Linked DNA regions of Homo sapiens. The protein of the gene in region 1 interacts with the protein of each later gene in a pairwise test. Each region holds a gene or a part of one and is shown in the gene's direction. Other genes may lie near its edges. The genes, in order: SLC71A2, MS4A1, CMTM3 and C14orf180.

The links.
Region 2: the proteins of SLC71A2 (region 1) and MS4A1 interact in binary tests that used the Homo sapiens proteins (3 or more experiments, as listed by UniProt).
Region 3: the proteins of SLC71A2 (region 1) and CMTM3 interact in binary tests that used the Homo sapiens proteins (3 or more experiments, as listed by UniProt).
Region 4: the proteins of SLC71A2 (region 1) and C14orf180 interact in binary tests that used the Homo sapiens proteins (3 or more experiments, as listed by UniProt).

Annotation. Positions count from the first base shown.
Region 1 is NC_000009.12:94,440,150-94,447,862, forward strand, and holds part of SLC71A2 (hippocampus abundant transcript-like protein 1), read left to right. Parts: intron 1-835; coding exon 836-950; intron 951-4,814; coding exon 4,815-5,033; intron 5,034-6,673; coding exon 6,674-6,787; intron 6,788-7,713.
Region 2 is NC_000011.10:60,450,760-60,459,128, forward strand, and holds the start of MS4A1 (B-lymphocyte antigen CD20), read left to right. Parts: upstream 1-5,087; 5' UTR 5,088-5,186; intron 5,187-8,369. UniProt on the Homo sapiens protein: B-lymphocyte-specific membrane protein that plays a role in the regulation of cellular calcium influx necessary for the development, differentiation, and activation of B-lymphocytes.
Region 3 is NC_000016.10:66,607,554-66,614,950, forward strand, and holds the end of CMTM3 (CKLF-like MARVEL transmembrane domain-containing protein 3), read left to right. Parts: intron 1-755; coding exon 756-911; intron 912-1,881; coding exon 1,882-1,977; intron 1,978-2,205; coding exon of another isoform or gene 2,206-2,304; exon of another isoform or gene 2,305-2,329; coding exon 2,330-2,450; intron 2,451-5,055; coding exon 5,056-5,084; 3' UTR 5,085-6,334; downstream 6,335-7,397.
Region 4 is NC_000014.9:104,574,292-104,582,973, forward strand, and holds the start of C14orf180 (nutritionally-regulated adipose and cardiac enriched protein homolog), read left to right. Parts: upstream 1-5,472; 5' UTR 5,473-5,712; intron 5,713-6,968; exon of another isoform or gene 6,969-7,334; intron 7,335-8,682.

The DNA of each region.
Region 1 (7,713 bases):
CTTTTCTCTTATTTTTTTTTTTGAGACGGAGTCTCTCTCTGTCGCCCAGGCTGGAGTGCAGTGGCGCGATCTTGGCTCACTGCAAGCTCCGCCTCCCGGGTTCACACCATTCTCCTGCCTCAGCCTCCTGAGTAGCTGGGACTACAGGCGCCCACCACCACGCCCGGCTAAGTTTTTGCATTTTTAGTAGAGACAGGGTTTCACCATGTTAGCCAGGATGGTCTCAATCTCCTGACCTCGTGATCCGCCCACCTTTTCTCTTTAGAGCTACTAAAATGAATAATTATATTAATAGATTTTTAAATATTAAAATATTTTTCTATCCTGGAGTAAACCCCACTTTTTGTTCTATAAGGTTTTTCTTTGTTAATTTTAAACTGGGTTTTTAAAAAAAGCATCTATCACATGATATAAATTTTTAGTCTTAAGTACACTAATATTTTTCATTATGACTTCTGCTTTTATGTAGATCTTTTCAAATCATTTGTTGTATGTCTTTTCCTTACTTACAGCTAGGATATTTGAGAAGTTTTTTTTCTGTCTGTTGGCTACCTTTAAAAATATAACTTTTACCTAATCCCCTTATTCTTTGTTTTTCCTCTTCTTTTGTTTTTTTAGGGGGCATGTACTGACCCCCTTTGAACAATGATGAAATTAGAATGTTTCTACTTCTTCCTGTCTTAACTTAAATTTTTTTTGATATATTTAAGTATACATACATATACAAGTATACTTATTTCTTGGTGCGTAATCTTTACATGATGTCTTTGGCTCAGGTAATGAAAGTGAACATACACTCCCTTTCCCTTGGGTCATTAAAATAATCTTTTTATAGGTGGTATTTTGCGATGATTTCTGTGTCTGGAGTCTTCTCGGTCACGTTTTCTGTTATATTTGCCTATGTAGCTGATGTCACTCAGGAGCACGAGCGAAGTACAGCTTATGGATGGGTAAGATAATAGACTATATATATTTTTTAACCAGAATAGTAATTAACATTGTATTAGAAATTTACTGGAAAGTGAGTTTATTAGTCCTTTCTTGCACTGCTGTAAAGAAATATCTGAGACTGGGTAATTTATAAAGAAAAGAGGTTTAATTGTCTCACAGTTCTGCAGGCTATAAAGGAGGCATAGAGGCTTCTGCTTCTGGGGAGGCCTCAGGGAGCTTTTACTCATGATGATGGAAGGCAGAGCCAGAGCAGGCATCTTCACATGACTGGAGCAGGAGGAAGAGAGAGTGAAGGGGGAGGTGCTACACACTTTTAAACGGCCAGATCTCACAAGAACTCACTTACTATTAACAACCAAGGAAGGTGGTGCTAAGCCATTCATGAGAAACTACCCCCATGATCCAATCACCTCCCACCAGGCCCCACCTTCAACATTGGGGATTACAATTGAACATTTGAATTTTTTAAAAAATTAGTTTGATTTGTTTCTTGTTATCTGATCCCCGGAGGAGCGTTAAGCAGTCAAGTTGCACAAGCTCTTTGTGCACCTAATTTGGAGAGGTGCTGAACCTCAGCAATGTTAATCCATTGTTAACTCTATTAGTGGTTGTGTGTTTTGGACATACATTTGGAACATGGTATGTAGAAAAGGACTACATTCACTCATTCATCAAATCCATAGTTGCTGAATAACAAAAGTTATAGGAGACCTTTTTTTCTGATAATTAAAACCTGACAGTGTTTCTGATTTTCTCAGGCATGATAATGGCATTATGATTATGTAGAAGAAAGACTTGTTAGAAGATAGCTGAAGCGTTTTACATCAGTGTCAGGACTCTGCCAGTTACTTTCAGATGTTTCAGGGGAAAAGATAGCATAGCATGTGGATGTGCATGTGTGGGCATGTGTGTTCCATGCCTGAACCTGTGAGACATGGAAGTATGCTTGGTACCCTTCTCCCGTCTTCCTCTGTATTTGAAAATATTCAGAATAAGAAAGTGGAAGAAGAAAGATGATCTGGCTAGGTTGTGGGGAATAGGTTGGAGGGAGATTGAATGCCAGAAACTTAGGTTATTTATCTCCTTTTCCTGGGTCTTTTAAATCTACTTCCTGGAGTAGAGTAAGTTCTCATTCATTGCTGACTGAATGAATAACTTCCTGAATCAATGATGGGCATATAAATGGGTTACTACTATTCCACAAAACACAACAATTTTTAACTTGTTGACTTTAGACATCAGTAGTTTGAAAACTACTCTTTCAACCCCACTTCCCTCTGACTCTTCTACCTTCCCTCTCTCTCTCTCCTTGCTTCTTCCCTCCACTCCTGAATGTCCCTCTCATGTCATGCCCTAAAAAGGGGCATCTTCAGAGTCGTGATGGAGGAGGACAAAGATAGAAGCTGATAGGAAAGCTTCGAAGAAGACAAGATTTGGAGCTCACTCAGGAACACCAAAAACAAAAATAGGCCGGGTGCGGTGGCTCACGCCTGTAATCTCAGCACTTTGAGAGGCTGAGGTGGGGGCGGATCATGAGGTCAAGAAATCGAGACCATCCTGGCCAACATGGTGAAACCCCGTCTCTACTAAAATACAAAAATTAGCCGAGCGTGGTGGTGTGCGCTTGTAATCTCAGCTACCTGGGAGGCTGAGGCAGGAGAATTGCTTGAACCCAGGAGGCAGAGGTTGCAGTGAGCCAAGATCGCGCCACTACACTCCAGGCTGGCGACGGTCAGACCCGCCTCAAAAAAAAAAATGTCCCCCAAAACTCCAAAAATTAACAACCTCCCCCCGCCCTGCCAAAAAAAAGAAAAGAAAAAACAAAAACAAGAAGGTAGGTTGTTCAAGTTGTGCCCATAAGGCTTGGCCAACAGAGTAGTGAGGGACAGCTTTCTTCTACAGCATGGGAAATACCTGTTGAGATACTCATTTTTCTGCAATATTTGATTTTTGTTTCTCGCTTTCAGCTGGGAAACCCTTCACACAGCTGTTGTGCTGAGCAGTAGTGCTTTCAGGAAAGATTTAAGAGAGTTCTAACCAGAAGCGCCTGTGACTTAATTACCCTCTCCAGCTCAGCTCCTCATTGTATAATGGCAGTTAGGGTTAATATCTACTCACAGGGGCATTGAGAGCAATCAGTGAGCGCACACATCCAGACTGAGACGGCACTTAGCTGAAGTGTGCTCCCAGCCAGCAGAAGCAACTCAGCATGCAAGGCTGCCTGGATTGCAGTCTACCTATCTTCTAGATATAGGAGAATTTATTGCCAATTAATTACAGAACGTGTCAGTCAAGTTCTAAGGAGCATTTTGAGACCCATTAAAGAACAGTATAAAAATGTGTACACCTTCCTTACTCAGACTTCTTCAGTAAACCAAGAAAGTGGTAATTCTTTCAGGGCTACGGCAATGATTAGTCATGTTAATAAGTGAGTTAACACTTACTAAGAGTTTGTTGTGGGGAAGTCATTCTTTAGATTTATTCATCAGAGTTGTATTGAATGTTAAGTGAAAGAGGAGTTTAGATAAAAACACAGACTAAGCAAGTAGGCTACTTTAGGCTTTAAGATAGACACATTTTGCATAGAGTTTCATGAGGCCATAGACCCTTTAACACCTGAAGATGCTGCAGCAGTGCCCCCTTAACACCTGAGAAGAGTGTAGGAATGTTCCCATAACTGTTTGCTTGTCGTTGCAGTTTATAATGCAGTTATTTGGTTGCCCTGATATTCTTGAATAAAGTGGGAAAACCTGAGGGCAAGAGCTTTGTCTTCTTCATCTGGTACATAGTAGATTCTCAGTAAATATTGAACAAAGGATTCCTATTCCCCACATTGGAATTTTCCACATTCTTTTTTCCCCTCCAAAAATACTTGAGTTTTAGCTTTTATAGTACTTTTAGTATAATACTAATTTCAGATATACTGTGTTTTTTAATTCAGTTGGGAGATGATGGATGAAAAAGAATTTTTTATTGCCAGAAATTTTGGGATTTTTAATAAAATCCATTAGAAGTTTAAAAAGCTAACTTATAGATATGCATTTGACATTTAGTGTGGTTATAATTTGGAGTTTGCCCGATAAGCATCTGACCATCCAGATTGTGTTCTAAAATAAAGTGGACATTCCACATGCTTATAGGAGTGCACTGTGAAGGGGCTCAAGGTGGCTTCAGGTTGTGGGTGTGCTTAGCTGGCTCTGTGGTCTCTATACTGGATAGGGTCAGGTGGTGACAGAGAGACAGAAATCTACAGCTGTCTAGTCAAAAAGCTTCAACTTCCACCTCAACAAATTCTTTGTTGTTGTTAATAGTTTTTTTCTAAGAATAGCAGAGGGTTCCCCCTGACCCCAGGCAGTGCTAATGAAATGACCACCAAATGATAAAATGTTCAAACAGTGCAGTGTTTTTAGAAGATTAAATCAAGCACAGTACTTGAGTAGTTTGTAAGTTTTATCATCAGCCCTGCAGGAATTCTTTTCATACCATCTCACATCCCCGGTCCCCAGTTAAAGAAGACCAAAGAGCTAATGTTTTATTTGTGGGGAAGGTTTTTACAATTTTTGTTTGTAATAAGATAATCCTTTTTTACTCTTGTAGCTCTGCAGGGTATCTCCAGTTAATAGTTTATGAACACATTCTTAAATCACTTTAATTCTCTTTCATTCTTAAAATTTATATGCAACACATTTCTTTTGTCTTACTTAAAGCCAGGGAAGCATGGCTGCAGGTATGCACCTGTGGGACCCTGGTTGAGTGTGCTTTCCTGAAGGTGTGCACCTGCAGCAGGCAGACCTGGGTAAGGATATGCTTTCCCCAGAGGTGTTCACCTATGGGACCCTGGGTGAGAGTGTGCTTTCCCACAGGTCTCAGCCACCTTTGCGGCTAGTCTTGTCAGCAGCCCGGCCATTGGAGCATATCTTTCTGCCAGTTACGGAGACAGCCTCGTTGTGCTGGTGGCCACAGTGGTGGCTCTTCTGGACATCTGCTTCATCTTAGTGGCTGTTCCAGAATCTCTGCCTGAGAAAATGAGACCGGTTTCCTGGGGAGCTCAGATTTCTTGGAAACAAGCAGACCCTTTTGCGGTAAATAAAAATATGGAAATATTTACTTTCCTAAATGTCTTTCTAAGCCAAGCAAATGAAAGTATGTATGTGCAGCCTCAAGGATCCTAGCAGTTGTTGACTTATTTCTTTAGTAAAAATAGAAAAAATTAATTGCAAGTAAGGGATTGAGTTAGTCTTTGTATTAAGAAATATATAGAATTGGTACTTAAGCATGTCATAAACGAAGAGAGAGAAAATGTCTAGTTAATTCTTGGTGAGAGTTTGGGAAGAGAGTTTCTTTTTGCATGGTTGTTTTCATCCTTTTTAAACAAAATAAGTGAAAGTGGTCATTTGAAGTGGTCATTTTCACTCATTTTAACTCAAAAAGGATAAATGCCTTTGGTTTGAATGAGTTATTTTAATTTTGACCAGAGACGTTTAATTTGTTTGTTACAGATTGAGTATTGTTTTCTATAATATGTCTCTCTCTCCCTCTCTACCTCCCTCCCTTTCCTCTCCTTTTCCACCCCCTTCTTTTTTGGCATGGGAAGGTGGTGTGTCACTGGAAAACATATCTTATCTCTCACCTTCTCTCTACCCTACCTGGTTTGAAATTGTTCTTGGGGAAAAAAAAAGTTTGTAGACAAAAAAAGAACCAGCAGTTTGGTTTCTGCTTTTCGTCCCCCAAGTTTACCTTTCAGAAAAATTCATGTAATCAATCAGAAATTACTTTTTCTAAAATACCCCCTGAGGGCATGACCTAGGGATCCTGCCTGTTCTATTATTGTCACAATGTCAGACACCAAAAGAAATATTTAGAGAAGGAAGCCAGTAGTGGGGTTGGGAGCCAGCCAGTTAGGCTTCCCACCTTCCTTTGTAGTGATCAAGTTATGCATCAAAGCTCCTCTGTGAAGTAGAGCTACTGTGGCTTACTTTTCCGGGCAATCGTGGGGATTACTGTTAATGTGTGTAAATTAACTAGCCTAGTGTCTGTTGCCCAGCAAAGTCTCAACAACATTAGCTGCTTTTGCTTATTAATTACATAAAAGCTATGGTCTGATGAGCTAGAAGCTCTGTAGCACTTTCCACTCCTTTGGTATTAACTTACCATTTTGTTCTATTCAACAATCCAATGTATGTAAGAAGGATTTTTCAACAAGGTTGTAACATTCAACAAGTTCTTACCAGTTTGACCTTATGGCTGGAGCGTACTTATTTGTCTACCAGATATAAAAGTTGAACATGAACACTTTGAAGAATAGAGTGAATTTACCTATACGGAAACGCTCTGTACTGAATATGGCTTTAAAGAAGTTACATTATGAATTGAGAGAAGTGATTTTCTTAAAAGGTTCTGTAGGAATATATTTCCAGGTTCTGTTTATAGGAAGTTCGGGATCTGTTCAGGGATTTTAATCAGTGTGTTAACAAAGATGAGTAAGTGTGTTTTGTGGGTTTATTTTTTTGCTTTTTTTTTTAGCTATATGATTTGAAATATATACCTCTGAAATTAAGACTTGTAACTTCCTCAGAAAGATGGTGATAGAACTTCCTTTTATTAACCATTTGACTTTTGTTATTCATCTTAATAGATCAAAATAATGAAGCTGATGTCCCAGAACATTGGCAACATTAATGTGTATTGGCATTTTAAGTGTGTTCTTTCTGCTTATTCTCAGTCGTTGAAGAAAGTTGGAAAAGATTCTACTGTCTTACTAATCTGCATCACCGTGTTTCTTTCATACCTTCCTGAAGCTGGACAGTATTCAAGTTTTTTTCTCTATCTCAGGCAGGTGAGTAGTGAGTGGCTAGTAGCCTTTCAATACCAGGAAAATCAAAGATGGAGATTTGTCTAAAGATATTTTGAGGAAACCACTGCAGAGGAAAAAACATGTGAACTTGCTTCTAGTTACAAATGTAGGTGCTGGCATATAATTAGTAAACAGGGCACCTTTAATGCAATGATTTATAGTAAGATAATTACTGTGGAAATTTTTTTTTCTTGAGAATTAACCAGAATTAGCAGAAACATAATTTATCTTTTTTTTTTTTTGAGACGGAGTTTTGCTCTTGTCCACCAGGCTGGAGTGCAATGGCACGATCTTGGCTCACTGCAACCTCTACCTTCTGAGTTCAAGCGATTCTCCTGTCTCAGCCTCCCGAGTAGCTGGGATTACAGGCGTGCACTACCATGCCCAGCCAATTTTTGTATTTTTAGTAGAGACAGGGTTTCACCGTGTTGGCCAGGTTGGTCTCGAACTCCTGACCTCAAGTGATCCACCCGCCTCGGTCTCCCAAAATGCTGGGATTACAGGCGTGAGCCACTGTGCCCAGCCTGTTTTTTTTTTTTTTTTTTTTAAATAGACTATTTTTCTAGAACAGTTTTAGGTTCACAGCAAAATTGAGAGTAAGATATAGAGATTTCCCATATATCCCCTATCCCCATACATGCATAGCCTCCTCCACTATCAACATCTCCCACGAGGGTGGGAAATTTTTACAACTGATGAACCTACATTGACAAATTATCTTAACATAAAGTCCACAGTTTACATTAGGGTTCATGCTTAGTGTTGTACATTCTATGGGTTTGGACAAACGTATGATGACATGATAACATGTATCAACCCTTACAGTATCACACAGTGAATTTTCACTGCAAAAATCCCTTATGCTATGCCTGTTTATCTCTCCCTCCACCACCAACCCCTGGCAACCA
Region 2 (8,369 bases), on another chromosome or scaffold:
GTACTGCTGCCATCTCGGCTTACTGCAACCTCCCTGCCTGATTCTCCTGACTCAGCCTGCCGAGTGCCTGCGATTGCAGGCTCGCGCCGCCACGCCTGACTGGTTTTGGTGGAGACGGGGTTTCGCTGTGTTGGCCAGGCCGGTCTCCAGCCCCTAACCGCAAGTGATCCGCCAGCCTCGGCCTCCCGAGGTGCCGGGATTGCAGACGGAATCTCGTTCACTCAGTGCTCAATGGTGCCCAGGCTGGAGTGCAGTGGCGTGATCTCGGCTCGCTACAACCTCCACCTCCCAGCCGCCTGCCTTGGCCTCCCGAAGTGCCGAGATTGCAGCCTCTGCCCGGCTGCCATCCCGTCTGGGAAGTGAGGAGCGTCTCTGCCTGGCCGCCCATCGTCTGGGATGTGAGGAGCCCCTCTGCCTGGCTGCCCAGTCTGGAAAGTGAGGAGCGTCTCCGCCCGGACGCCATCCCATCTAGGAAGTGAGGAGCACCTCTTCCCAGCCGCCATCACATCTAGGAAGTGAGGAGCGTCTCTGCCCGGCCGCCCATCGTCTGAGATGTGGGAGCGCCTCTGCCCCGCCGACCCGTCTGGGATGTGAGGAGCACCTCTGCCCGGCCGCGACCCCGTCTGGGTGGTGAGGAGCATCTCTGCCCGGCCGCCCCATCTGAGAAGTGAGGAGCCCCTCCGCCCGGCAGCCGCCCCGTCTGAGAAGTGAGGAGCCTCTCCGCCCGGCAGCCACCCCGTCTGGGAAGTGAGGAGCGTCTCCCGGCAGCCACCCCGTCCGGGAGGGAGGTGGGGGGGTCAGTCCCCCGCCAGGCCAGCCGCCCCATCCGGGAGGGAGGTGGGGGGTCAGCCCCCCGCCCGGCCAGCCGCCCCGTCCGGGAGGTGAGGGGCGCCTCTGCCCGGCCGCTCCTACTGGGAAGTGAGGAGCCCCTCTGCCCGGCCAGCCGCCCCATCCGGGAGGGAGGTGGGGGGGTCAGCCCCCCGCCAGGCCAGCCGCCCAGTCCGGGAGGGAGGTGGGGGGGTCAGCCCCCCGCCCGGCCAGCCGCCCCACCCGGGAGGTGAGGGGCGCCTCTGCCCAGCCGCCCCTACTGGGAAGTGAGGAGCCCCTCTGCCCGGCCACCACCCCGTCTGGGAGGTGTGCCCAACAGCTCATTGAGAACGGGCCAGGATGACAATGGCGGCTTTGTGGAATAGAAAGGCGGGAAAGGTGGGGAAAAGATTGAGAAATCGGATGGTTGCCGTGTCTGTGTAGAAAGAAGTAGACATGGGAGACTTTTCATTTTGTTCTGTACTAAGAAAACTTCTGCCTTGGGATCCTGTTGATCTGTGACCTTACCCCCAACGCTGTGCTCTCTGAAACATGTGCTCTGTCCACTCAGGGTTCAATGGATTAAGGGCGGTGCAAGGTGTGCTTTGTTAAACAGATGCTTGAAGGCAGCATGCTCGTTAAGAGTCATCACCACTCCCTAATCTCAAGTACCCAGGGACACAAACACTGCGGAAGGCCGCGGGGTCCTCTGCCTAGGAAAACCAGAGACCTTTGTTCACTTGTTTATCTGCTGACCTTCCCTCCACTATTGTCCTATGACCCTGCCAAATCCCCCTCTGTGAGAAACACCCAAGAATTATCAATAAAAAATAAATAAATTAAAAAAAAAAAGAAAACACAAAAACTAAGCAATATGTCCGTGTGAAATGTAAGCATATGTGGAAAGTCAAAATACAATGAAAAGGAAGAGAGTGATAAACACCAAATTCAGCATAATTGTGAGCTCTGATAAAGAGGGTGGCTTGGGGAAGGATAACCTGAGAGCTTTCAAAGGTATCAGTGACACTCTTGTATCTCTAATCATGGCTGTGGGCACATGGTTTCTTGTCTCACTGTTATAAGTACTTTTTCATACATATTATTTAATTTTTTGAGAAATATAATTGAGAAAGCAAAACAACATCTTATTTTCATTAAATTTTTTATCACATAATGATATTTTTATAGTCAACACCTGCAGAAAAATGTTACCGTTACATATCAGTAACACTTCATCTCCAATGATAGCATATTTATTGGTACATAAGAGAAAAAACTCTTTTCAATAACTATGAGGTCATAATTGCATTTTTTTCTTCAGCTATATTCCCACGTCACAAAAGCAAAGGGAGTGATCCAGTAATCTGCACATGGGAGTACATCAGACATTTTTATATCTTAAAACGAATAATAATAAATGTTTTGCCATTTAAAGCTGTGTCACTTGAACAAATTAATCTTTGCGGGCTTAAAATTTTTAGACTAGAATGCAATAATAGTAATACCTACCTAATGGGTTTACTGTGAACCTTAAATGAAACATGGAAAGTGAGTTTATCAGTGCCTGGAACTTAAAAATCACTTAGTAAATGCTAGTTTTTGAAATTTATAATTGAGATTTTCTTGCTCTAAACATCACTTATTTTACCATTTACCAGCTTTCCAACTTGGGAATGGCTTCCTCCATTTCCTGAAATTTAGTTTCCACAATTATAAAACAGAATCAATATTATATGTGTGGTAAGGCTTATATGTGGACAATTCTTGACATAAAAGGAATTATTTAACTAATATTACCTTCCTAGCTGTTCCAAATGTATAGTCCCTTAGAAGAGAAAGAAGACCCTATCAACTATAAAGTTCTTAAGTATTTCAATTTACATTTTCCTTACTATGAATTATTTATAAGTGCAACAATGGGATTTTCTGACCTGTAACCAAGTTCTATTTGCAATTAGATCTTTAGCCTCACCTCTGACGAGCCCTATGTCTCCCTTACCAATTCTTTGACACCAGAACCCTCCAACAGCAGATAATTCTGGGTGCCAGGGCCTTGCTGAGAAGTTGAGAACGTGGCATAATGTTACTTCCTAATATTGGAGAGCCTGGGGACAATCACCTGGGTGAAAGAAAAAGCCAAACAGAACCATTCCTTCTCAGCACTGCCAGGGACACAGCAATCACAAAAACTGACCCTGCCTTCAAGGGACAAGGAGACAATGGCTGATTAAGGCAAGGACACAAATAATTATGATGTAGCACACAGTTTTCATATAGAAGGCAATGATTAAAAAAATTGGAGTGCTGGGACGTGCAGAGAATAAAAAGGAAATTCACATCAGGAAAATACTAACTAAATAAAAGTTGGCATACTTTTATGTAGACTTTAAGATTGTCTTTTGGAAGCAAGGTCACTAGATAATGAAAATAGGCTTAATTCAAAGAGAAATATTTTAAATATGTTATCAACCTAATAAAATATTCTCAAACCTTGGGGGAAGAGTGATGGTGATACATCAAATAAGATGCTATTGACAAGTCCAAATTGTAGTGAGAATTTCAACACACTCAAGCACTAAAATGTTGATCATTCAAATGAGCAAAGACAAGGTAAATGTTTATGCATTCATACAAATTCAAATTCAAGTTTATTTGGGAAGAATCATACATAGAGCCACCTAAGTTATCTCATTGGCCACAAAGTAGCAAACAACCTGAGACTGACTGGGGAAATACAGGGCTCAAACAGAGAAAAGGATGCAAAAGACCAGGTTGTGCTGCCACAACTCAAGCCCCTTTGCTGCCATACATTTGCCAAGTCCTGACCCTGTTCCCATGCCAACTAAAATGAAGGCACATGCCTCTAACCACCCCACCATCCAGGACTCAAACCTCAGGTTTCACAATCATCCACAACTCAGACCCTAGGTAATTGTCCTCCCATCACCAATCACTCAAGCATTTCAGCAGATATGCATAGACCCTCAATTAGAATGTTAAATGGATGATGGATCTTCTGTTCCCACTCTCCTTCACTCTACAGCATCTCTGAGAGGTGACTGCATGACTTTACTTGAGTATTCTTGAAGAAGTAAATTCTCTATTGAAATGGTAGCCAGTTCCCCTAATGAACGGCTCCAACAATTTTTTTTTTTAGAGTGGCATCTTTTTAAATATCACACCACAATCAGCCTCCCCAGAACTACTTCTACCCAGTGGATCTAACCCTATGGTTCCAAACTATCTTAAATTTAAAAAGAGAGGCAGAAAGAGAAAGAGAGAAGAGATGAAAGAGAGAGACAGGAATGAACCTCGAATTAGGCAACAGAGCTGCCTGCCATATTTCATCCCTTTAGATTAAATAAACAAATAATTACCTAACTATAGCTCTGTGTCTCTAATAAAATGAAGCAATGAACAGGGAAATAAAAATGTAATTAAAAATCCCACATATGAACATAAAAGTTGAATATTGTAGGGGGAGAGAGAGGACATTATCTTTGGGCAAAACTTTGATTCACATCCCAAATATTTAGACTCTCCTGACACTACCAACTTCTTCCATTTCCCTACTTGATCTAGTACTGTGCTTGATGACCCTGCAGCTCCAGACTAGACTAAAAAGAGAGGGGACACAAGGGAACTTGACAGACAGAAGAAAAAGGTGGGTTCAGAGGTAAAAGTGCTATTTCAATTTATATTTCCAAATATGGAGGCTAATTCTTGCTTTGAGTGGCTGGGTACATGTACTATGGCACTAAAGTATAATTTTAGGCCATTTCTGCTAAATCTGACACAAGATATATACATGGTTCATAAGAAACTTAAGTGTGAGCCAATGAGGACAATATTTGGGGACCCCTAAGTATAGTGCTGCCAAGTGTACAGCCTCAGTGATTCTTGAATCTCTGCATGGATGCCTCCTGCCCACCTACTCAGCCCTAAAAGTGAAGCCAGAAGGTAAAAGTCAGTGCTAACGGCCCATCTTTGACCAACTTCTAGAATCTTTCTTGTCCTCAGGGACCTACCATCCACACCTGCTTATAGGGTGGGGGCTGCAGAAGTTCTTCTAATTAAGGTAGCATGAGCATGCCAGGCAGTCCCCTGGGGTCTTTTTCAAGAAGTGAAACCTGGTAAGGCAGAAACTTTTTTTGCACCTCCTTCAGCTATGGTAAGTGTTAAACCAAAGTAATTGGAGCGAAGCCCAAGGTAGCAGAAGCTACTGATTTCCTGTCACCTGATGTCTATCAGCGATTTCATCTTCAGGCCTGGACTACACCACTCACCCTCCCAGTGTGCTTGAGAAACAAACTGCACCCACTGAACTCCGCAGCTAGCATCCAAATCAGCCCTTGAGATTTGAGGCCTTGGAGACTCAGGTAAGGAATCAATTTGCTTTCTTTAAATGACTTAAAGGAGGTGATGGATAAGGTATAGAATGGTTTTGAAGACTGGAGGTTCTTGATCTTAATTCTAGAGTTTCCCTAGTCAGACTTCCTAATAGTTCTATGACTTAAGGAGGGGTGACGATATCAAGGCTTGCTGCCCACTCACTCCTCTAATCAGTCTCCCTCTCAACAATTACCCTATGCAGTCAACTGTGAATCATTCCACAAAAGTAGTAGATTGCAGCATATATATTAAATCATGGTTTCTAAACCATTGGGTTCAAACTGGAGCTCTACCACTAACAAACAATATAACCTTGGGCAAATTACTAAACCTCTAAAGCCTCAGCTTCCTCATCTATAAAATGGGGGCAATGGTACCCATTACATTAGGAAAATTGGAACTAAAATCCTGAATCCCTTAGGACTTCCCAATACCAAATGAGAAAATAATCAGTCATAGGCATAATGAAAAAAACTCCATTTGTCTTCCTGTAAATGCTTTTGTCTACATTAAATGTAAATATACCTAGAAGTATAGGTGGCTTTACAGGCTAACATTTTCTGGAGGGGATTTGTGGACACCAAGTTGAGCATGAAATCCTGCCTCAAATCTATCACATGGGAAACCAAGAGTAAGAGGGGGCGCTGCAGATGTGGGGGAGCTCTAATGAAGGAAAACAAGGATTAATTTTAATCATGCCATTACTGTTTTCTGAATCCAGTATATAAGTGATTCCCTTTCCCTGTTTCCCATAAAATGGCTTAATCTCACTGAGAATCCGGTGGAAAGAAATGTTTAATCCAGCATTGTGAGCATTTTTGTGTGTGTGTTTTGTTTGTTTGTTCATTTTTTAGTGGAGACAAGGTTTCTCCATGTTGGCCAGGCTGGTCTCGAGCTCCCGACCTCAGGGGATCCACCTGCCTCGGCTTCCCAAAGTGCTGGGATTACAGGTGTGAGCCACTGCACCTGGCCATTGTGAGCACTTGTTAAGCTTCCCTGAGGAAGTAGCTGAGTTTGATGTTCAGCTTAATGTAACTGAGCTCATAGTACATAGAAAACAGGTTCCCTATGCAAGTCTAGTAGGATACAGGATTCTCCGAAGAAAGTAGTTGATGTCTAGTAAGGAAAGCAAAGAGCTAGGAGCTCTGAAGAATTCCTTGCAATCAGGCAAGGAGAGCAGGAACGCCCTCAGGTGATGTGCATATCTAATGCAGAGTTTGATTGAAAGTAAAGAGGGAGGGAGAAGGAACACTTCAAAGTTGAGAAGATTCAGGAAAGAAGGTAGAGGACATGTATAGACCAGTGGCTCTGGTGGCGGTAGTGGGATATGAGCTTGGGAAGTCATACAGGGCTGAATTCCAAAGGCCTTGAGGGGTTAGATGAAGGGTTTCTCCAGCAGGTAATGACAGGCCAGCAAAGGAGTTCAGGCTCAGGAAGAGCATCACTCAAAACAGTGATCGGGAGCTTGATGTAGCAGCCTTGTGGACAATGGATTAGAAAAGAGAAAGACTGAAGGCAGAAAAGCATGAATGGAAATGAGAAACTCACAGGTGACTCTGGATATAGAAAAAAGACCCACATGCAAAATGTATTGCAGAGGTAGAAATGGCATGACTTGGCCACTGACTGACCAACAGCCAAGATGAAGATGGACTGAGAGATGATGGAGCTAAAGTGAAATGTGGTCCCAACTATCTAAGCCTGGGTGGCAGGAGAAACAAATAAAACAATCTGAGACACGAGGCCTGAGAAAAGACCACTGACTTCACAGCACAGTCCTCAAAGACCAGTTTCAGTCCACTGACTGGCGGAAACTAGTTGCCAAGCATTGAGAAGTGAGTGGGTGGAGAGGAGGTGGGGGAAGAGAGTGGGTAGCAAAGCTTTGAAGCAGCTGCGGTGAAGAAAAAGTGAGCCTGGGCAGTGGGCAAGGACATTGCTAGATTAAAAGAAGAGGACTTTGGGATTCAGGGACACTGAAGTACATTTTAGTCATAAAAGGAGTATTTAGCACCTTAACAAATGCAACTTATCTCATATTCTCAAAATGATACTTTGAAATGGGGAAGGTAACTATTACCTTAAACTTACAGAGAGACCACAAGAGGAGCAAGCAAGAGAGCTGGGACTAACTCTGTCTGCTACATATTGCCAGAAATTGGGAGACTGAAGGTGCAAAGAAGAAATAATTTCTTGGAAGGGCTAACAGCTTGGTTGGACTGAGATGGGCTGAAAAGCACAGAGGGAAGGGAAGTAAGAGCACTCTTCCTCGGAGATAGGTGCACAGGAGGCCAGAAGGGATAAAAATGCAAAACTATTTTGAGTGGAAGAGAATGAAGATGAGGTAACAACAGTGAGGCAGTTTTTAAACTTCTCAGTACATGATGGTACGAGTGGACTTAAAAGTCTATTCAAACCAAAACCCATAAAGGCTGTGAGATCTTATTCAGTGGATGGACATGAAAACAGGGGTGCCTTTAAAAATAAAAAAATATTTGCAGGAGTTAGTGTGAGTAATTAAATGCGGTACTGAGTGATCACCTGAGTCTCTATTTTAACATTCATGCTGATTTGGACACCAGCAAATGTAAAATCTTATTGTTATCATATTGCGGCTAATGTGGTCCATAACCCCTACTAATCTACCAACTAGTCTTTGAGCATAACTGTGCATTGGGCACTAAGTCATTGTGAACAATTTATTTTAATGATAAGGCAAAATTGCGAGAATCTCCAATCTCCGTAGGCGAGTTTTATGTATTTATGAATTCTCATGGAACGAAAGCTTTTCATTACAGTCAGCCCACAATGCCATAAATCGATTAATATATTTACCTCTCATATATGAGACAGATATATATATAATCAGATATATATATGAAAGATAGTTTCCATAAGAAATAAAAAAACAGAGAAAGCACTCATGTGTTTCTTTATAAACTACTATTTTATACAAATATTTGTTTAAGGTTTGTAGAAGTATAGTTGCCACCATGAGATACCATTTTAACAGAGAAATATCACACACACACACACACAGCCCTCATGGTCATTATTGCCATTAGTTACAACAGGCATAGCCCAAGTAGAATTGGCTTACAAAAAAGTTTATCTCGCCAATAATACAGACACAGCTTTAATCAAGCAGTTGATGAATAAAATGAAATTAAAAC
Region 3 (7,397 bases), on another chromosome or scaffold:
CTTCAGGACGCATATCATTAAGGTTCAAGGTTTTTTCTTTTCAAGGTGAAATCTACATTCAGTGACGAGCACACGTCTTTGGTGTTGGGTGTTACTTTTTGGAAACTGGTTCCTGCCTCGCTTTGATTTCCCTCCGCAGGGCACTGAGTGGAGTGCATGTGCTTGGAAGGCTGGGGCTTTCTGACTAGGTCCTGTCAGGGAGCTGGGGTGGGGTAAGGTGAGGACTCAGGGCCATGCCCAGGACTGGGAGGCAGCATAGGTGTGAGCCTGGGCCATGCTGGGTTTTTTTTTTTTGTAGGGGCGGGTGCGGACAGGGTCTCTCTCTCTCTCACCCAGGATGGAGTGCAGTGGCCTGATCACAGCTCACTGCAGCCTCGACCTCCCCGGGCTCAGGTGATCCTCCCACCTCAGCCTCCCAAGTAGCTGGGATTTCAGGCACACACCACCATGCCCGGCTAATTTTTGTATATTTTGCCGAGATGAGGTTTTGCCATGTTGCCCAAGCTGGGGTCAAATTTCTGGGCTCAAGCAATCCACCTGCCTGGGCCTCTCAAAGTGCTAGGATTACAGGTGTGAGCCACTGTGCTTGGCCTGGGATTCTAATCTGGCTCTGCCACTTCCCAGCTGCGGGACTGTGAGCAGTTGGCTTCCCCTGCTGGAACCTCCTCTATCCTGACCACAGGGCCTGGCTCAGAGGAGCACTGGACAAGGAACATGAAAAGGCTCTGACTTCACCTCAAACTCCTTCCCCGCAGGGTCTCTCATTCATCACTTTTATCTGCTATGTGGCGTCCTCAGCATCTGCCTTCCTCACAGCGCCTCTGCTGGAGTTCCTGCTGGCCTTGTACTTCCTCTTTGCTGATGCCATGCAGCTGAATGACAAGTGGCAGGGCTTGTGCTGGCCCATGATGGTGAGGACAGGGGCCCCAGGAGGGAGGGGTGCCCTGCACAAAGTGGCCAGATGAGGAGTCCAGAGTCGTGCACTTGGGCCCTTATCCTTTCTCTAGTGTGCTGGAGTTTGCAGTTGGTTAGAACTGGATGGAGAGACCCAGCTTCAGATCATCCCAGCTCCACTACTCAGCAGCCCTGTGACCTCAAGTGGGCTGTGGTGCCTCTAGAGCAGGTCTGTGAGGCAGGGAACCCGGAGAGGGGTCTCTGGCCACCAGGTGGCGCCGGTGCTCCCCACCGGGCCTACAGGAATGAGCTGCCGCCACAGGAATTCAAGCCATTTCCACGTGGGCAGGACAGGTTAACTGAGGACTTGCAGGGCTTACCCAGACTTCAGCCATCGGCAACCCTGACCTCGTTTTATCACCTGTGAGGGCCCAGACCCCAGTGGACCTCGCTGAATGAAATGTGTCCTAGAGAAAGGGCAGCAAAGGCTCAACTTGAACCCTTGTCTCTTGACTTCATATCCAGCATCTGCTGCCTCAGGAGGGCTGCACCCTCTGTGTCCCCATCTTAGGGACGGATAAGCAGAAACTGTGGTCCATGAATGGATCGGCCACAAGAGTGTGACAAAGCCGAGGCCCAGAGCCAGATCTCCCCAATGGAGAGCGGGAAGGGAGCAGGTGGGGGTGTTTCCAACTTCTGCTTCCACCGCATCGCAGGGCAGGCTGCACCCTGATCCACACAGTTTTTTGCCCAGAGCTTAGGACAGCAGCCCCGCTGGACCCGGGATAGGGCAGTGTCAGCTGCTGGCAAGGCAGCAGAGGCACCTCGGGGGTGGGACAAGGGCCTAGGCATGTGGGTGGGGCCAGGATGGGATAGGAGCCCTCAGGTGCTAGGCCTGGGGCTGGGAACACGACCAGGCTGCCAGGCCTCCTCCCCATGCTGTGCTCAGCTCCAGGGGCTCAGGGCAGCATGCCCCTCTCTCCCCAGGACTTCCTGCGCTGTGTCACCGCGGCCCTCATCTACTTTGCTATCTCCATCACGGCCATCGCCAAGTACTCGGATGGGGCTTCCAAAGCCGCTGGGGTGAGCAGCCGCCCCACCCCTCTGGAAACTGCAGATGCCCCTCTAGCCCCTCATTTAGGGTGGGACCTGGGGCAGAGCCTTTCCCTGCTGGGGCCCCCCTGGGGTCTCATGTGGGTCCCGATGATGATTCCAAAGTCCTCTCATTAAAGACTGACTCTACCCGGGGTTTTGAAAGGCTGTTTGTCAAACCAAGTTCACAGCTCATTTTCCCACTTCCGTTACTCACAGGGGTCTGTGCCTGACACTCGGGCTGTTTGTCCAAGCAGATCTGAAATGGGCCGTGAGGCTGGGGCAGCAGCCTCCCGGAGCAGGGAGTCAGCCCTGTGATGCATCCCATCCACCCTGTCCACAGGTGTTTGGCTTCTTTGCTACCATCGTGTTTGCAACTGATTTCTACCTGATCTTTAACGACGTGGCCAAATTCCTCAAACAAGGGGACTCTGCAGATGAGACCACAGCCCACAAGACAGAAGGTAAGCGGCTGCCCTGATCACCCCAGCAGTGCTGCAACAGGGGCCTGCCCTCCCTCGGGGATGCCAGCTAGTTTGAGGCTGGGGTGGGATCATTTCCTCTCTCCCCATGGCAGGAAGTGTTTTCACAGCCCATTCTCACCTACCCTCATGCAGCACTGATCCAAAGCCAGTCCCATTCGCCTCGTGCACCCTCACCCCAGCCTTTCTAGGAGGGGCAAGCAGTGGGCATGGCTGAGCCTCAGGCCAGGCCGGCAAGTCTCCCTGGACGACCCCCCTGGGCAGCCAGTCACTCTCGGGCACCTGTCCACCTGGGATCCAGAGTGGCCATCCCCCAAACCCAGCCCCTCTGCTGTCTTACCCATCCAGGCCTGTCCTGGGAAGCTCAGAGCCCAGAAAGGAGTCAGACCCAGAAACCGTGGCAAGGGACAGATGATGTGTCCCGTACCAGGGGAGGGGCCAGATGGGGCAGCAATGACGACAGTAAAACAGGAGCCGATAGAGGGAGGGATACAGTAGCTGAAAGCAGGCCCACGCTGGGTGTCAGCTGGCCCGAGGCTCTGGAGGGGACACTAGAGCTGGGTACTGACAGATGGCAGTAGAGGAGTGTGCAGGCAGAAGAGACCAGGCCGGTGTAGGGAAGAAGGCTGAGAGCAGAGACAGCAGGCGCTTCTGCCTGGGGAGATGCTTCTCTGGACCAGGCGGATGTGCCCCTGTGCTGGCAGTGCCTGTGGCTGGACAGGTAGACAAGGGCAGCTCTGGAAGGGCCTGCAGGCCCCACCCTGTGGTTGGGATCTTCCCTAGGCAGGACCAGTAGGTTAGGCTTAAGAGCCACTGGTTTCCTAACAGCCAGGTGCTGGGGCCATGGGGATTTGTGAATCCCAGAAACCGTCCTTCTGCTGAAAATGAATGCCACTCATCCCATCCCGTCCCTTGGCAAATATTAGGTTAGAGCTCCCAGGCGGTTTCCTCAGGCTCTGCAACCTGCTCCCAGTTGCCCGCAGCAAGTGATCCCAGACAACCAGCCCAGGGACCAATTAGTAAACGTCAGTGGAAACTTGGGTGGTTTTATTTTGTTTTTTTTGTTTTACTATTTGGAGAGTTTCACATATGTAACAATTATTTTGCTGTAAAATTATTCTTGACTTATATGTTAGAATTGAATATAGCAGCCAGGCACAGTGGCTCACGCCTGTAATCTCAACACTTTGGGAGGCCGAGACGGGTGGATCACTTGAGGTCAGGAGTTTGAGACCAGCCTGGCCAACACGGTGAAACCCCATCTCTACTAAAAATACAAAAATCAGCCAGGCATGGTGGTGCCCGCCTGTAATCCCAGCTACTTGGGAGGCTGAGGCAGGAGAATCACCTATGGGAGGCAGAGGTTGCAGTGACCTGAGATCAAGACATCGCACTCCAGCCTGGGCGACAGAGTGAGACTCCATCTCGGGGGGAAAAAATTGAATATAGCAAAACCCACAAAATCTGACGAGTGCAGCCCAGGAACCGGAGTGAGGGACAGAGCTGGGGTTTAGGGACTAGGCTGCCCACACCCCAGCCCTGAGCCCAGCCATGAGCCAGCGACAGCTCATGGGGACTGACTGGGGTTCTGAGAGACAGAGGCTGGCCAGGGAGGGGATGAGCATCAGGAAGTAGCAACCAGCACTGGGGTGGGGTTGGGGGTTAGTGACTCTGGTGCTTTTCCTTCTGGGGTGGAGGTTCCAGAAGGCTCTACAGAGCTCCGAGACAGAACTGGGATTTCAGGAACCCTCGAGGTACACCTCATAGGCAGGCCCTTACCATTATAAAATTGTTTCTGATTACAATATTAAACAAGGATTGGGGGAGGGGGATTGAAGATATAAAATGGCTAAAAAGAGGCTTGCTGATTTTCCAGTATATTTTAGTTTGGGGGACAAGAAAATAGCTGTCCTCACCTTGTCCTGCTGAACCTGGGGGTGGGGGTAGAGCTGGAATGCAGAGGTACAGCCCTGACCCACCCAGCTGAGAAAAGCCCAGGGAGACTCCGGAGGGGCTGGGCCTGAGGAAGGGGCACCTGGGCTTCAGTCTTGGGGTGGAAACACCCCCACCTGCACCCGCACCCACACCCTGGAGGTGCAAGTGGCTTCTGCGGCCGGGCACGGTGGCTCACGCCTGTTACCCCAGCACTTTGGGAGGCTGAGGTGGGTAGATCACCTGAGGTCAGGAGTTCAAGACCAGCCTGGTGAAAGCCCATCTCTACTAAAAGTACAAAAATTAGCCAGGTGTGGTGGCACACGCTTATAATCCCAGCTACTCGGGAGGGAGGAAGTTGCAGTGAGTCGAGATCCCGCCATTGCACTCCAGCCTGGGTGATGAGCAAGACTCTGTCTCAAAGACAAAAAACAACAACAAAAAAAAAAGAGAGAGAGAAAGTGGCTGCTGCCTGTGGAGGGCCTCAGGCCCGCGGCCTGCCCTGATGCCAGCGATCACTGGGAACGGTAGAGTCAGCTGCAGGAGGCCTGCACCCAGGCTCCTGCCAGCAACCCAGCTGTGCTTCCCCAGAGACCGTTCCCAGGCACCGCTGCCCTGAGCCTCCTGCCAAGCATCCTCTCTGCTTTCCTTTCAGAAGAGAATTCCGACTCGGACTCTGACTGAAGGCCTGGCGGGTGCCTTGGCAACCTGAGCCACACAGGCCTCCACCCCTGCGCCTCACAGGGGTCGCTGGCGTTGGAGCGGAGGCCTGGACTTCTGAGTTGCAGAGGGGGCTGCGGACACAGCAGGCCCCCTACAGCCTCAGGTTCTGCCTGAGCCCAGCCTACCAGGCTTGCCCCTCAGCTCAGCACTGTTGACCACGCTGCGTATGAGGGCATCTTGGGTATCCCACTCCTTCTCCCCATTTCTGTCCCACAGGCCTTCAGCCCTTTAACGTCTCTGCCAAAAACCAGCACAAGGAGACAAAGCAGAGCCTTGTCTGTATCTGGGCAGCAGGTGTTCCATGCTGCTAGGTGGCGGGGGTCGGGGGTCTTCTGTTTCACTAACAGGAACAAAGACAGAAACCATGACAGGGCTGCCCCGCCAGGCCCCGGTGGGTTTGTCTGCACTTGGTGCTCCTGCCCACACCAGCCACTTTGGTGACAATGACCCTTCCAAGAATCTTTGGTTCAAGGAGCACCAGTTCCCTCTTCATTCTTGAAGCAGGGAGAAATTGACCTTTGCCTTGTCGCCCAGGAAGTGGGGCTCGGCACCCATAACTAACACCTCCCACCCTTGGAAACCATGTCTTCTGGGGGTGAGATGACCATTCTGGGTCTAAGACTGTTTCAAAGAAGAGCTCATAGACTGACTGGTCCAGAAGACAGAGGGTACAACAGTGGCATCACAGTGACAGTGTCATGGGGAGCTGGGCGGGCCCAGCCAAACCCTCCTTCTTCCTAGAGCCCAGCCAGCAGGCAGGAGTTCCTGGACCCTCAGGACAGTGAACTTCCAGACCTCAGGGCAGGTCTATGGGCCACTGCAGGAGATGAGACCAGCCTTCTGTGTTCACCTAACGATTTATACTGTGTATCTGTCTTTGATGGAATTTTGTAACTTTTTATATTTTTTTATGCAAAAGCAGCTTCTTAACAGATGGCATTTTCTGTGACTCTAGGCCTCACAAAAGAGCCAGAGTTCTGGACCCATGTTTGGAGCATTTGTAGCCTTATTCTCTTGCGTGTGAATCTCTTACCCTGAAAAAAAGCCATAATGAATTAAGCCAGACTGACCACTTGCTTGGAGTGTGTGCTTGAAAAAACCAGAGCAATACTGTTGGGTATTGTATCAGGCTTCAGTACAAACTGGTAACACCAATGTGGATCCTGACAGCTTTCAGTTTTAGCAAAAATACACGTGAAATCTGACTACCATTTAATCCTTTATTTCCCTAACCTTTTTGGCACCAGGGACCAGTTTCGTGGAAGACAGTTTTTCCATGGACTGGGGGTTGGCGGGTGGGTTGGGGTGAGGGTGGGAGGGGATGGTTTCAGGATGAGACTGTTCTATCTCAGATCATCAGGCATTAGATTCTCATAAGGAGCACACAACCTAGATCCGTAGCATGCACAGTTTACAATAGGATTCGCATTCCTATGAGAACCTAATCCCACTGCCAATCTGACAGGAGGCAGAGCTCAGGCGGTAATGCCGTTGCTTGCCACCCACCTCCTGCTGTGCAGCCTGGCTCCTAACAGGTCCCATGGTACCAGTCCACTGCCCAGGGGTTGGGGACCCCTGCTCTAGTTCTCACACTACCCTGTTTTATAAACAAAGAAACTGAGACAGAGGTCGGGTAACTGGCCCAGGGCCCTCTCACTTACACATCAGGATAGTGTCTCACGGCAGCCTCAGGCAGCCGGAACCCTGGGGCTCTCCTGGTTTGGAAGCTGGTTGCATAACAGCCCAGAGGACTACAGCCCTGGAGGACCCGGGTCCGCATTCTTATCCAGGCTGATGGGAAAAGACAAGACATTCCACCCAAACTGTCACACACCACATGTGCTGAAAATGGGTAAGAAAGCTGGGTGTGCAGGAGTGGAGAGGCCCCTGGTGGAATTTACATTCCACCTTGTAAGCCCTGGCAAAGCGGCAAAGCTGGTGTCACAGAGGCCTTGTTCCACCCTGAGGATCGTGGCTCTGTTCAACCTCCACACAGCAGCCCTATTTCAGGAACTGGATCCGTAACGTTTAAGGGGCAGAGGAGGCCACTCAGAGTGAGGAGAGACAACGACATCCTTACACGTCCATTTATTAAACAAGTTCCTTCATGACAATTTAATACAATAGTTATTAACGATTAGTGTTGAGAAAATTATTTCCCTCTACATACAAAAATACAGATTTGAACACTATGAAAAAGATCAAGACAAGTACCATGAAAAACTGGTCCTTCAAATGAAAGGGGGAAAATTGAGGGCAATGTGAGGCTTTGCC
Region 4 (8,682 bases), on another chromosome or scaffold:
ATCTAGCGCTTGGAGAGCATGGTTAATGGAAAGACCCAACTCCGTAGAACACGGAGCTTTCTTCTGAGCCAATATGAGTGACCGCGGCCCAGGAAAAAGTGCACACACCCAGGGAGCCCTGAGTGGGGGGTCCTGAGGCAGCCAGACACCAGCTCTGCTTCCCACCCACCTTAGTGTGACGGAATTGCAGGCAGTCATAGTTCAAGGAGCTTCTACATCGGTTCAGCCCAGAAAGGCAGGGTGTCTTGAAGCAGGGGGCTGACAGGTCGTCAGCGGGGCCAGAGATTATTTCATTTGCAATTAGTTAAAGAAGTAAAGCTTTGTCTATAAATGTGCAGTCATCAGAAAGGAATGTTTTCGGTGAAGATTAAGAAGTCTTTTAACCGATACACCAGGTCACAGTGGCGTGTGGGGTGCATGACTTGACCCTGGGCTGGCGGCCTTCGGTCCTGTTTATAATTCGAGTCTTAGGGTCACAGTCCTCTGATCACTAGGTTAACGTCACTACTGGTCAGCCCTGCCTGAACTCCCGCAGGGAAGGGGGAGAGCGAGGCACGTCTGCCCTCCTGTCCCATCATGACTGGGAACTCAGTTGTTCCGGTTTCTCTGGAGTCCCTTTGGCCAAGAGGAGCCTGTTCAGTCGGTTGGGGCCTTAGGGTTTTATTTTTATTTTACAGCACGTAGCACTTTTGCACACGGACAGCGTGGCCCTCACAGTTCGGCGCACATGTCCACAGATGTGTGGCTTGCCTGCGCCACAGAGAATGCACGCTTCTGGTGTGAGAATGAGGCTGTGTGTGACGTGTGAATGCTCGGCCCCGGCCGGCCGCAGCCAGGTCCCTGCGGTGGGTCCTCAGGCCCGGAGACCAGGGATGGCGCCCACAGTGGGAACCTGGGCTGACCGGCTGCCCCCGGGGCCCACGCCTGCAGTCGCCCCACTGAAGCCCAGACAGACCCCCACACGGCCTCGCCTCAGAGCCCAGAACCTTCAGCAGGTCAGGCGGGGTGGTGGAAGGATCTCCCGGCCCCTCCAGCCAGCCCCTAAGATGCTGCTGGAAAAACAGCTGTGGCAGGCAGCTCGGGGGGCCCCGGCTCGGTTATGGCTTATGTACAGCCCCGACAGCCAACTGGCTTTCAGGGAGGGACCAACTTCATAGATAAAATTTGTCATCGTATCGATGGCTCCTGTAGAGAAAAAAGGACTTTTACAGCCTCTTGGAGGTCATGAATAATAGAGGAGGAGGAAAGGGGCCGCTTTGGTTAGTGTTCCGCGGGGCCCAGAGGCCCCCATTATCTCAGCTGATGGGAGCTGGGGGGGCCCCAGCAGCCTATGGTTCTCACTCGTGGAAACCAGTGTGGTCATCACCCAGGGCCCCCACCACACTCAGGGCTGGGGGCAGTGCCCATGCGTCCTGTATTCTTAATAAGGGCTCTGACTTGGCGACGGGGTGACCATACATGGCCCTGTCAAAGGGCCCTGCCTCAGTCTGAGAATGACAAGCTGCAGGCTCCATGGTAGGGGCCTGGACCTCCCACTCCGGGCCGTGACCTGGGGCAGGACTCTAGCTGTATCTGCAAGCCGGAAGAGCAGCATCTCTCCAGGCAGCCGTATGTCAGGGGCCAGTGAGCAGACACAGGGGCCAGAGCGTCACAGGTCACCCCCATATGCCCAGAGTCTGCTCCCCCGTCCTCCCACCTCCCTCCCCACCCGTGGTCTATGGGGCCCTGAAGAGTCCCCAAAGGCAAAAATCCTCCTTTGCTTGCCTCCAGTGATGGGGAACTCACTACCTTACTGTCGGCTGTTCCTCCCATGGACAGCTCTGCCTGGTGGGAAGTCCCCCCACCAGCCCCTGTGCAGAGCAGCCTGTGCCTGTGGAGCCCCAGCCCAGGTTCCGGCTCTCACCCAGAGCATGCGTCAGCCCCTCTAACCCCAAACCCACACTCCTCCCTCATTTCCCTCATTTCCTCTCCTCTTCTCCTGGACCCCACCCTCAGGCTTCACTCCCACCAACCCCCAGGGTGCCTGGGCCAAGCCCACCTGTGACCACCACGTGGCAAGTCCTGTGAGGACTTCACTCCTTGTCCCTCCTGACCTAGCACTGGCTCTGAGTGTGCCAGTGGCAAAGACCTGCTCATGCGGCCTCCACCGGCCCTGGACTCACCCACCACCGCCACCCCTGCCTGCCCTCTCCCGTAGTCCTCTCCAGGGCCTTCTCACCGTGGTCATGGTTTATGGGGCCTCTCATGACCCCATCAGCCACCGTCCCCACCCAGCTGGAGACCCTCAACCAAGCCCTCTCAGGGGGTTTCCTGTGGTCATGAAGCAGCTGACGACCCACTGCAGAGACGAGAGCTACAAAGATGCATTCCCACTGTAGCAGAGGGAGCTGGGATCAGGACAGCCTCAGCTGCATTTTCACTGCCCCAGAGGGAGCTGGGCTCAGGACGGCCTTAGCTGGGCGTTCCCACGACAGCAGAGGGAGCTGGGCTCAAGACAGCCTCAGCTGGGCGTTCCCCCTACGGCAGAGGGAGCTGGGATCAGGACAGCCTCAGCCCGGCGTTCCTCCTGCTACAGAGGGAGCTGGGCTCAGGACAGCCTCAGCTGGGTGTTCCCACTACAGCAGAGAGAGCTGGGCTCAGGACAGCCTCAGCTGGGTGTTTTCACTGCCACAGAGGGAGCTGGGCTCAGGACAGCCTCAGCTGGGCATTCCCACTGCAGCAGAGAGAGCTGGGCTCAGGACAGCCTCAGCTGGGCGTTTTCACTACCACAGAGGGAGCTGGGCTCAGGACAGCCTCAGCTGACAGGGGTGCAGCCCTGAGCCCCGGAGACGCCTGGAGAACCTTTGGACCCATTTCCACCACAAGCCCTGGTGCTGCAGTCGGCCAGCCTGCACGAATTTCCCCCCGGGCTGTATGCCAGACAGGGGAAGGGCCAGCCTCCAGGCCTCTGCGCAAGAGGGCCACGGCCAACTCCCACCCCCTGGGCCAACGCTGGCCTCTCTTGTGCCTGGGGTCCTTCTGCTTCAACCAGCTGTGGACCCCACCCCCATCTCCCCCACCCACCGGCCCTTTCTTCTCTGGCCCAGGTCAGCCTAGGGCCTCCACACCCTCCAGCCCCACCCCCGACCCTGCCTGGAGCCATGTATGAGGCCATGCTGAGGCCCAGGGCTCTCCGCACTCCAGCCAGACCATGGTCCAGGGAGAGCTGGGAGTCTAGGCCAGCACCACGTGGCCATGACCAGAGTAGCCACAATCTCCAGCCCCTGCAGCCTCCACTCCCACGTGCCGCCCTACTCCACCCCGGCCACCTTCCAGGACCACCCCAAGGAAACAGCCCAGCCCAGCCAGCTCGCTGGACTTTCCCAGCGCTCAGGAGTGCCCAGCCACTGGACATGCTCCGCCCTCCCGCTGAATGACAGCTGGCCTTAGTTGCTGTGTTCCCGGGGCACTGCTCAGGGTGGGTGCACCACAAAGATCTGGGGAGGGTGGGGCATCCGATCATTCCCAGCTCCCGGGGAGAGATGAGGGTGTGGCGGAGGTCACCTGGCTGAACAGTGACAGAGCTGGGCCCAAACCTGGGCACCACGTCATTGGCACCACTGCCCGTGGGCACATGTGCCCACCTGCCGGCTGCAGGCAGGCCTGACACAACTGGGCTCTTCCCTGGCACTGCCTGGCACAGGCACTGGGGACCCTCCGCGGACCCGGCAGCTCAGCACTCCCCTGGGCCAGCCTTATCTTGCCCTGCAGAGCCCAGGCTGGAGTGAGGCGCAATGGACGGAGGCGAGGAGGGTGCAGCCGAGCCCTATCAGATACGGCCGGAAATATGACCCCGCTGGGACCTGAGCCCTGAGCCGAGCCATCAGCTCACTAATAAATTACCCAGAGCGAATGTCCACAGGGTCAGCCCGCATCGCCTTTCCAGGGAGCACAGAGAGGGGGCGGCACCCAAGGTCTGTGGGCTGACCGTTCCCTCCCCTCTGTCAATGAGAAGGGTCAGGAAGGAGTTGTCCCGGAGCCCCCCGACCTCGGGCAGTGCAGCCTGACCTCTGAAATCTGGGAGGAGCAGCTCCAGCCCTGGGAAGCCAAGGATAAGCGCCCAGATTGGGCACAGGCGGGAGAGGGTCTTGTCTGGCTACAGGACCTCACTCTTCCCAGGAAGCCAGACTGCCAGCAGGACCACCCAGCCTTCCTCAGTGCTCTCCCTGGAACAAGCGTCAGCGAGCCAAGGCCCTCCTGCCAATCTGGCCCACCCCGTTTGTGTAGACACAGAGCGCACTGTGTGCCATATGGCCCTGTAAGAGAAAAGTTTGCTCCCCCATGCCCTGTACTGAAGACGGCAGTGAGGGGAGGGCCGGTCTGCTGAACCCCATCCCAGTGGCTGCGTTGCTCATGCTCTGACGGTGGGTTCCAGGACTCTGTGTCCATGCAGCCCCACGGCTGGCCCTGAGCAGTCACCCTCTGTGCACACTGTCCCCCAGCCTGGCACACCCTGGGCTCCCAGGGGTCCTGTAGCTTTACCCAAGGGAGATGCACCCCCATTCCTAATGGAGAAACACGGGTCTCTCCACACCTCCTCCAGCAGTCCCCTGAAACAGGTCAAAGCCCCACAAACCAGGCAGGGGTCTGCCCACATGTGGTGGTGCCCTGCGCCAGTGATGCCCTCACCAGCCTCTTTCAGACCTGCCTTTACATGCACCAGCAGACGGGGGGGCTGGCGAGGACGGGCCACCAAGCCTGAGCCAGGCTACCACCTCCGGGCTGTGTGACTCTGGACAGGGTGCCTCAACTCTCTGAGCTGCACTTTCACCTACAAATGAGGGGCAGACTCAGCAGCGCCAGGCAGGGCAGTTGGACGCCCACCCAGGACAGACCCTGAGAAAGGCTGATCCCTCACCCCTGCCATCGCTCACTGACCCATACATTGCCCCTTCCTGCCAGGGCAATATCGAGGGTCGGCCAGTGTGCCCCAAAACGGCAGCTTGGGACCCATTCTTTGCCTCTCCCTCTGGCAACCCCAGGTCAGGACTCACAGGGGCACAGGGGCCTGGGGCAGGGCGGGCACTCTCGCCACCACGGAGGCCCCATGCTGGGTCAGGGTCTTATTGGAGGCTGGACTCTGTGATCACCTCACCTCCCGCAGCCCCACAGTGCCCTCCCTCTCCCACTCTGCCCCGAATTCCAATCCATAGGTTTTTCCAAGAGCTGCACAGCTCTGGAATTGACCTGGGAGGGGGCACATTTGGGCCGGGAGGGGTAGGAACAGCAGCAAACTCTGGTCTTATCTGAAATCATGGTCTGTTGTCCACCGGGGGCCTGGGAAACAGCCACCCCCTTCTGCTCCGGGGCCAGCGGCCTGTCCTCGGGTTCACTGCTATTTCTGCCAAAGGGGAGAGGTAATTATAGCCTGGCCGCTGCCAGCTGGCCCAGCTTTGCGATCCAGCAGAGAGGGCTGGAGACGGGACGAAGGCCACAACAGACCCGGCCCTGCCAGCGGGCGGTGGCGCCTCCAGATCAGAGCCCTCGGGAAGGAGGCCTGGGCGGGCCTGGCCCGTTCACCTGTGTGCCCTGCAGTTCTGCCCGAGGCTCAACTCTCAAGGGCCTGGGAGGGGTGCTGCCGGCCAAGAGGGTCCAGGACCTCACTGGACTGTGCCCCACAGGGAGATCCCGAAGAGCCTGTTTCTGTCCCTCGGGGAGCCAGGAGGGAACCAGGTGAGTTCCAGCCCCAGGGAGAGGGGGCTCACTTCCTGCTTGGGTATGAAGATGCCAGAGCGGAGAGATTGCCAAAGGCAGGTGCAGGTGGGGAACCTGCCCCAGCTGGGCAGCAGGTGTGGGCAGAGACTGGGCAGAGCGGAGAGATTGCCAAAGGCAGGTGCAGGTGGGGAACCTGCCCCAGCTGGGCAGCAGGTGTGGGCAGAGACTGGGCAGAGCACACACTGATGATCCTGAGTGACCTGAACAAGCTCCAGAGTGGCCACCCTTCCCCCTTCTCCTGGGACTGATGGTTTCCCTAAAACGGAGACAGTCCCAGGCCGGCCCTGTGTCCACACTGAGGCCAGGCCGCCTCTGGGGGAAGCAGGGAACACGGCCACTTCAAACTTAGCAGCGGGGGTGCTCCTGGCCACACAGGAGCTTCCAAAGGGCACCTGATGTTGCGCGAAACAGCCTGGGCAGTGGGAGAAGGGGCTGCACTCTCAGGGGAATGCAGGCAGCCGTGCCAGGCATGAACCCAGCCAGCCTTCCCTGAAGGGCCTTGGTGGGGGGCATCCTCCGAGGGCAAGTCTACGCAGGCCCAGCCTAGCAGGAATGGATTCGTTACTCCAGTAACTGAAGCCTAGTTCTCAGTGTTTGGGAATCCCTGAGAACTGGCTCTTTTCTGAGCCGTCAGTCAGAAGGAATCCCTGTCCTGCCCTGTGTGGCCATGGGACCCCCACCCAGCACTGGACGCCACGCCATTTCTTGGGCACTACTGAGCTTTGCAGTGCCCTGGACAGTTGGCAAACAGCCCCCATTCCACATATGGGAGGAAGGGCCTGGGGGGGTCCCCCGCCCTGTCTGTCTGGAGCTCTCGAGGCCTAGGGTGGCCCCTGCACCCAGCAGATGAGCAGCCATCACCCGGTACTGCTGCTACCTCGAGCCCTAACTGCACCTCGGGATGTGAGGGCCCATCTAGGCATGGAGAGGGGCCTCAGGGGGCCACCAGGCAGCTCCTGCTCCTGTTCCTACCTGGTAGGGCCTGCAGGCACCTGAGCAAGCCCAGTGGGCGGTCAGCCCAGCCAGGGGCCTCCCCACAAGTTCTCCCTCTTACTTAAGTCGAGAACGCATGTTGTCTGGGGAGCTGCCAGCGTGGTTCCAGTGGTGAGCGTTGGGCTGGGAGCCAAGGCTTTTCCCAGGAGCCCAGCCACCCCGCCTGGCTGTGTTCTGCCTCCGCCCTGCAGAGGAAAGGCCAGCGAGGCAGTGTCCATGGTCCCAGTCTTCTTCCACCGGAAGAAGGCACAACCTGCATCTGCAGCCCCAGGGCCATTGGGTTAGGCCTGTGGCCAAACTACTAAGGTGCTGGGAGACTGAGGAGGCCCAGCTCCTCCTGGGGCCACCAAGCCCGTGGTTGACGGCCTCCCCATGGACCGGGCTGTCCCGAGAGCAGCAAGTCAGCCGGGGCCCTCAGGGCCGCTGAGGCCACTGCTCAGTGTCGCCGTAATGGAAACTTCTCAGCTGGTTGTGAGCCGCAACAGCTCTGGTTCACACCCTGCGACAGCGAGGCTGTGACCGCCAGTGGATCTCGGGGCTGATCAGGCCTGAGCCACCCCGGAGGTACAGCACCAGCAGGAGCCCAGGTGGGCAGGGGCAGAGAGAGAGAGAGAGAGAGAGAGAGAGTATGTATGTGTGTGTGTGTAAGTGGTGGGGGTGGGGGCTGTGAGTCTCCAGCTTCTCCCAGGGAGGTCTCTGGCTTCCCAGGAGCCTGGCCCCCTGTCTCCAGCTCCCAAGTGAGTTGCCCTGGGGGAGGCTGCACCTGGAACAGGGAAACAGGGAGCCTGGCCCCAGCCTGCACTCGCTCAGGCCCCGGGACCCTCTGCCCCTGGAAGGCTGTGAGGCTGCCGTGTGAATGGGTGCAGTGCCAGGCGAGGGGTGAGCCGGGAGTGTGGGGCCGCACGCTCAGAGCCGAGGAAGGGCAGTGCCAGGCGAGGGGTGAGCCGGGAGTGTGGGGCCGCACGCTCAGAGCCGAGGAAGGACCTCCCATGTGGGGTGGGTGGGATGTCAGGATTTCTCACGAGCCAGCTGCTGCATGGGGGGCACTGCCCGCCCCGAGGAACCCTCAGGGAGGACAGAGAAACATCAGGAGGTGGGCTGTGGGCAAAAGGGCGGGCGGCACGGGCCAGGCAGAGGCAGCAGCCTGGGAGGAGGCGGGAAGCCAGCGGGCGGCGTCCTGGAGGACGGGGCAGGAGTGGGAGGGAGCAGCAGTGGCTGGGCCCCAGAGCTTGGCGTTATCCAAGCCACAGAACCAGGCAAGAACCACTGGCCCGCCCCCACGCCCCACTGCAGGCTGGTCTCGAGGGGGAGGGACTCGGCACTGCCACGGCCGCTGGGCTCCATCAGTGCCCTCACGTCTCTCAGCAGCTTCAAGATGAGGTGGGGTCTTTGGGGTACTGGGCTAGACCCCCAAAGACTGTTGGAGGGTCACACCCCAGACCAAGGTCCTGGGCCTCAGCCCTCATGGCCCCACCTCCCACCAGCAGTACGGGCTGGTCATGCCCACAACTGGGAGCTCCGGGCCCTGACTCCCGCCTCTGTCCCAACCCAGGCTCTGAAACCTGGCAGGCTGTTCTCCCTCTCTGGGCCTCAGTTTCCCCTCCGCCAGGGAGCTCGGTGCCCCCTCTCAGTAGAGGAGCTGGTAAGAACCCCCCAGCCCCCCAGCACCAAGGGAGGCGCCATGGGGTTCCTGTTCCCAGAGTGGGGGTAGAGTCCCCTCGGGTGGACGCGCCCTCCCCAGCAGCGGGCCTAGCGGGACACTTACAGGTCCAGGCTCTGAAGCTATTTTCCGCCCTTTATCTCCCATCTGTCACGAGGCCTCCAGTTACACACTGTCCCTGCCAGAGGCCCCAGGCCTCCCCGCCCCCACCTGCCGAGCATGCCAGAGCCACTCCTTCCCTGCTTCCACTGGGGAAAATGAGGCCCAGGGAGGTC